2 linked regions of the Homo sapiens genome follow. The protein of the gene in region 2 interacts with the protein of the main gene of each other region in a biochemical or structural test. Each region holds a gene or a part of one and is shown on either strand. Other genes may lie near its edges.

What was found. Proteins that work in one complex are often made in the same cells at the same time.
Region 1: the proteins of UBE2L3 (region 2) and ITCH form a complex in vitro, tested with the Homo sapiens proteins (19 studies listed by BioGRID, with this or other methods).

What each region holds. Positions count from the first base shown.
Region 1 is NC_000020.11:34,506,117-34,509,272, forward strand, and holds part of ITCH (E3 ubiquitin-protein ligase Itchy homolog), read left to right. Parts: intron 1-1,578; coding exon 1,579-1,678; 3' UTR 1,679-3,156. UniProt on the Homo sapiens protein: Acts as an Acts as an E3 ubiquitin-protein ligase which accepts ubiquitin from an E2 ubiquitin-conjugating enzyme in the form of a thioester and then directly transfers the ubiquitin to targeted substrates.
Region 2 is NC_000022.11:21,609,129-21,612,784, forward strand, and holds part of UBE2L3 (ubiquitin-conjugating enzyme E2 L3), read left to right. Parts: intron 1-1,728; coding exon 1,729-1,915; intron 1,916-3,656. UniProt on the Homo sapiens protein: Ubiquitin-conjugating enzyme E2 that specifically acts with HECT-type and RBR family E3 ubiquitin-protein ligases.

The sequences.
Region 1 (3,156 bases), on a different chromosome or scaffold from region 2:
TGCTGTAGCTCAATCTCCACTCATGCACCCTCCACCTCCCGGGCTCAAACTGTCCTCCTACCTTAGCCTCCCAAGTAGCTGGGACGACAGGCATGTGCTACCACACCTGGCCAATTTCTAAACTTTTTGTAGAGACAGAGTCTTACTTTGTTGCTCAGGCTGGTCTCGACCTCTTGAGCTCAAGCAATACTCCTGCTTTGACCTCCCAAAGTGCTGGAATTACAGGCCATCATGCCAGACCTAAAACATTTTTCATCTTGTAAAATTGAAATGGTACCCATTAAAGCAGGGGTCCCCAACTCCTGGTCCCCAGCCTGTTAGGAACTGGGCTGCACAGCAGGAGGTAAGTGGAGGGTGAATGAGCATTACCTGCTGAGCTCCACCACTTGTCAGATCAGCAGAGGCATTAGATTCTCATAGGAGCAATAACTATTGTGAACTGTGCATGTGAGGGATCTAGATTGTGCATTCCTTACGAGAATCTAACCTGAGGTGGAACAGTTTCATCCTGAAACCATCCCCCTCTCCACTCCTGTCCATGGAAAAATTGTCTTCCACAAAACCATTGCCTGGTGCCAAAAAGGCTGGAGACTGCTGCTTTAAACAATGACTCCCCATGACTCCCTTTCCCCAGGTCCTGGCAAACATCATTCTACTACTGTTTCTATGATTCTTTAGTACTTCGTAAGTGTAGAATCGTACCTTATTTGTCCTTTCCTGGCTGGCTTATTTCACTTAGAATAATATCTTTAATTTTCATCCATGTTGTAGCATGTGTCAGCATTTCCTCCTTTTTAATGCTGAATAATATTTGATAGTCTGGATATACTACATTTTGTTTATACATTCATCTGTCCATGGACACTTAGATTATTTCCACCTTTTGGCTGTTTATGCTGCTATAAACATAGGTATACTGTGGTAGAATATAGATATATCTGTCCATGGCCCTGCTTTCAGTTGTTTTGGGTATATACCCAGAGGTGGAATTCCTTGATCATGTAGTAATTCTATTTTTAATTTTTTGGGGGAATCTCGCCATACTGTTTTCCATAGTGACTACACTGCGTTATATTCCTACCTGTAGTGCAGAGGGGCTCCAATTTCTCCACATCCTCACATCCTTTTCAACTCTTGTTTTCTTCTGTTTTTTTTTTTTTTTTTTTTTTTTTTGGTTGTTGTTGTTGTTGTTTTGGTGTTTTAAATAATAGCCATCCCAACAGGTGTGAAGTGGTATCTCATTGTGGTTTTTATTTGCATGGTAAAGGATGTTGAGCATTTTTTTAATGTGCTTATTGGTCATTTGTATGTCTTTGGAGAAATCTCTATCCTTTGTTCATTTTTAAATATTGTTGAGTTTTAAGTTTTTTATATATTTTGGATACCAGTCCTTTATCAGATATATGATTTACAAATATTTTTTCCCATTTTTGGGTTATTTCACTTTCTTGATGGTATCCTTTGAAGCACAGTAGTATATTTTTGTGCTTCTATAGTAGTGTATAAAGTAGTATACTACACTACTCATTTGATTCTTTGCATATTTCCTTTTCTCAAACTAACAATTCTTGCTTTTAGTTTTAATCGCCTGGACCTGCCACCATACAAGAGCTATGAGCAACTGAAGGAAAAGCTGTTGTTTGCCATAGAAGAAACAGAAGGATTTGGACAAGAGTAACTTCTGAGAACTTGCACCATGAATGGGCAAGAACTTATTTGCAATGTTTGTCCTTCTCTGCCTGTTGCACATCTTGTAAAATTGGACAATGGCTCTTTAGAGAGTTATCTGAGTGTAAGTAAATTAATGTTCTCATTTAGATTTATCTCCCAGTGATTTCTACTCAGCGTTTCCAGAAATCAGGTCTGCAAATGACTAGTCAGAACCTTGCTTAACATGAGATTTTAACACAACAATGAAATTTGCCTTGTCTTATTCCACTAGTTTATTCCTTTAACAACAATATTTTATGTGTGTCAAAAGTCTCACTTGGGAGTAGTGTTTTTTTCTTTTAGACATTCTGCAGACATGCAGGGAAGTCCTTTGGTAACTGCAATATACAAGATTTTCCTATTAAGCCTCTTGGTAAGAGGCATTTGTTAAAAGTGCAAGCTTACTCCTGCTTCTGGGGATGTGAGCAAAATTCGGGCTTGTGTTCTCCCTCTCATTTTAGTCTGACTTGACTATTGTTTTTCCTTTCTGGCGCATGAATCCATACATCATTCCTGGAAGTGAGGCAAGACTCTTGCATCTCTACAAAGTAGTTTTGTCAATTTGAATTCAGGGAAAAGTTGGTCACAGCCTGCAAATGACTTCATTTGGAAGTCTGATTGTTTCAGTTGCCTGACAAATACTACACTTTACAAACAATGTTAACACTGTGATTCCTTCATTGTTTTAAGAAGTTAACCTAGGGCCGGGCATGGTGGCTCATACCTGTAATCCTAGCACTCTGGGAGGCCGAGGCAGGAGGATCCCTTTAGCCCAGGAGTTAAAGACCAGCCTGGGCAACATAGGGAGACCCTGTCTTTTTTTTGGGCAGCGTGGTGGGGGATAAATAAATAAAAGGAAAAAAAACTTAGCCTAGAATTAGAATTAATTTAATTGAATTCATCTAAAGATGTCTCTGGTGATTTTTATATGTTCCGCTATATAATTGATGCTTTATAGTTTTATCATAATCCAACAACTTCAGTTATATTTAATTATTGTTAAGGAGTTTAAGACTAGAAAGACTAGAGTGCTTTCTAGTCCAAATAGAGGTCAGTGAAACAGCTTTTGACATCAGATTTTCATTTGAGAGGGAGAGCTGTGGTACTGGCTAAAAAGAAAGGAAGATAACATCCAGTAACCACAGGAATATATTCTCTGTGAATTAAAAGTCTTCAAAGTTATCATTTCTCTGACATATGTTGGAGTAGTCATTTCCATTCTTTACATTGTCATGAACTGGATTGATAACCCTCATCTGCAATATTTTCACCCCTAAAATTTTTAACAGGGTTTCCTTTTTTTCTCACGACTATTTAAGTTTAGATTGCTCCATTATTAACTGATTAATGCACTTTGAAGTTCTCTGGAATTAATTATTTTAACTTGGCCTAGCTTCGACTGTCAAGGTGGCTGTTATAAATTTGACTTCATTGGCAGTGGATGAA
Region 2 (3,656 bases):
CCTCGTGATCCACCTGCCTTGGCCTCCCAAAGTGCTGGGATTACAGGCGTGAGCCACCGCGCCCGGCCGGCAGTTTCTTACAAAACTAAACATATGTCTTACCATTGGATCCAGCAATTACATTCCTTGGTATTTAGCCAAATGAATTGAAAACTTGTATCCACACAGATGCTTATAACAGCTTTATTCATTAATTGCTAAGGTTTGAAAGCAACCAAGATGTCCTTCAGTGGGTTAATGGATAAATAAATTGTGGTATATCTAGACAAATGACATTCAACACTAAGAAGAAATGAGTCTGGGTGCAGTGGCTCACACCTGTAATCCTAGTACTTTGGGAGGCCGAGACAGGCAGATCTCTTGAGCCCAGGAGTTTGAGACCAACCTGGACAACATAGCAAAACCCAGTCTCTATAAAAATACAAAAAAATTAGCTGGGGGTGGTGGTGCCTATCTGTAGTCTCAGCTACTTGGGAGGCTGAGGTGGGAGGATTGCTTGAGCCTGTGAAGTCAAGGTTGCAATGAGCCAAGATCACGCCACCATCCAGTGGGCAACAGAGCAAGACCCTGTCAAAAATAAATAAGTAAGTATGAAGTGGGGGAAAAACAAGTAACGGCTGGGCACAGTGGCTCACGCTTATAAACCCTGCATTTTGGGAGGCCGAGGCAGGCAGATCACTTGAGGTCAGGAGTTCAAGACCAGCCTGGCCAACATGGTGAAACCGCATGTCTACTAAAGATACAAAAATTAGCTGGGCATTGAGGCGGGTGCCTGTAATCCCAGCTACTTGGGAGGCTGAAGCAGGAGAATTGCTTGAACCCAGGAGGCGGAGGTTGCGGTGAGCCAAGATCGTGCCATTGCATTCTAGCCTGGGCAACAGACTCTGAAAAAATAATAATAATAAAAAGAACAAATAGCTTCTAACGACAAATTTATTTCTCACTTATTGAGGCTGGGAAGTCTGAAGATCAAGGTGCCAACAGATTCAGTGGCAACTGAGGGCCGGCTTCATGGTTTATAGATGGTGCCTTTTCACTGTGTCTTTATATGATGGAAAGGGCAAGGCAGTTCTCAGGGGCCTCTTTGATAAGGACACCAATCCCATCATGACCTAATCACTTCCCAATGGTCCCAACTCCTAATACCATCACATTGGTGATTAGGTTTCAACATAAGATTTTTGGGGAGATACATTCAGACATAGCAGCTACATATTGCATGATTCCAGCTATCATGTCTGATAACCACACAAAACCTATAGAATGTGCAACACCAAGTATGAGCCCTAACATAAACTAGGGAAGCTGAGTGGTAATGATGTGTTAAGGTAAAAGGTTCATTGGTGGTAACAAATTTGCCCCTCTGGTGAGGGATGCTGATAGTGGGAAAAGCTGTGTGTGTTCAGGGGCAGGGGGTATTTAGGAATTCTCTGTCCTTTCCTCTCAGTTTTGCTGTATACCTAAAGGTGTTCTAAAAAGTAAAGTCTATTTTTTAAAAAAGTATGAAGAGACCAGGACATCAATCTCAAGCCCCTTCTCAGTTTAGCAGATAGCTTGCTCTAGAAATACTTTTGGGTGGCTGGGTTGTCCTGAAGGTGGCAGGGCTTCAGTTGATACTTGAATCCCTTGAAATAAATTGATTTTTCAGATAAACAATTAAAACATTCCTGTCTTGGCCATAGGTTTATGAACCATGGTGTGTTCATTTTGATCTCTCTTTCCTTCCAGGACAACCCTCCATATGATAAGGGAGCCTTCAGAATCGAAATCAACTTTCCAGCAGAGTACCCATTCAAACCACCGAAGATCACATTTAAAACAAAGATCTATCACCCAAACATCGACGAAAAGGGGCAGGTCTGTCTGCCAGTAATTAGTGCCGAAAACTGGAAGCCAGCAACCAAAACCGACCAAGGTAAGACATGTGCCTGTGTCTTCCTCGGAGGGGGTCTTTGGGGGTGCTGCTCTGGGGTGGGGGCTTCTGGTACCAGATCAGACAGAATCCAGAGAATCTTTCAGGTACACGAAAAATGTAGCTGAGGTCCTGTCAGACCTTGTGGGAATGGCTCATCTCAGCTGAACTTTTGACCTGTATAGGGTTTGAGGAGGCCTTTCCAGTGCTCAGCCCTGGGCTGCCATCCACAGTGGGAACACACATGGACAGACAAGCCCAGTGGCTTGCTGCTGGTGCAGAGAGGTGCAGGCACTGGTCCCTGGAAGGGATGAAGGACTGTGGGGCTGCCTACAAGGGGAAGGGAGAGTGGGATTTAAGGTGGCCTCATGCAGTAGTTAGTGCCTGAACTCAGACTTGAAGGAGGAAAGGAGGTTGGAGAGGGCCTTCCAGGCTATAGGAAGGGCATGGGCTAGAGCCTAGTTGCTCGGGTGATGTGAGGGGAGGGACAGAGGCAGATGTAAGGGCAGTATTCCCAGATGAAGGCACGTAGTTGGCTTTAGTGGGCCTGGGATTCCCTGGAGTTGGATGTGGCTGTGCGTGGTGCACATGTCTGTGTGTGGCTGTGTGAACATAAACATGCTCATTCTTCTGGGAAGAATATTTGAGTCAGTATTGTGGTTGTCCTCCCTTTTGTCCCCTAGAAGTGACTAGTTTGTTATGGACTGTGTCTGGTTTTCATTTAATTCTAGACTTTCTTTTGAAGTCCTAATCTCATATTTTGATGGCTTCCTTTTAAGTACCTAAACCAGTATAAAGTCTGTTTAGATTAGAGTGGATGAAGCTGGCACTTGAGAGGCTGCAAGTGGAGGGTTTCTTTTAGGGGTGCTGCTCTAGGGTAGGGGCTCATGGGTCCTTCCTGATGCCAGATCAGACGGAGTCCAGAGAACTCCTACCTTACCAGGTGCACGCAAAGTATGGCTGAGGTGCCACCAGTCCCTGTGGGAATAACTCAGCTGAACTTTTGACCTGCACAGGGATTGAGGAGGTCCCTTGTTTTAGTGATTGAAAAAAGCCTTGGAAGGTGGAGTTCAAAGCCTTGCGCAAGAAAAATCAAGCCTCACTTGTTGGAAGTAATCACCATGAAAGGTGCCCATTAGACTCCCACACTGAGTAGAAGAAAGGAGTGGGTGCTAAACATTCAGTCAGGGCAGAACAGTCTCTAGTGGGCTTGGTCCTTGTTTGTGTACAAGCTGATGTTTATAAAAGCTTGACACAGTTCTTCTCAGTGCCTGGTTTTTTCTTTTCTTTTCTTTTCTTTTTTGGAAACGGAGTCTCGCTCTGTCACCAGGCTGGAGTGCAGTGGCGCGATCTCTGCTCACTGCAACCTCCGCCTCCCGAGTTCGCGCCATTCTCCTGCCTCAGCCTTCCGAGTAGCTGGGACTACAGGCACCCGCCACCACGCCCGGCTAATTTTTTGTATTTTTAGTAGAGACGGGGTTTCACCATGTTAGCCAGGATGGTCTCGATCTCCTGACCTCGTGATCCGCCCGCCTCGGCCTCCCAAAGTGCTGGGATTACAGGCGTAAGCCACCGCACCCAGCCGATTTTTTCTTTTCTTTTCTTTTTTTTTTTTTTTTTTTTTTTTTTTTGAGACGGAGTCACCCAGGCTGGAGTGCAGTGATGCCATCCCAGATCACTGTAACCTCCGCCTCCCGGGTTCAAGCAATTCTCCTGCCTCAGCCTCCTGAGTAGCTGGGATTAC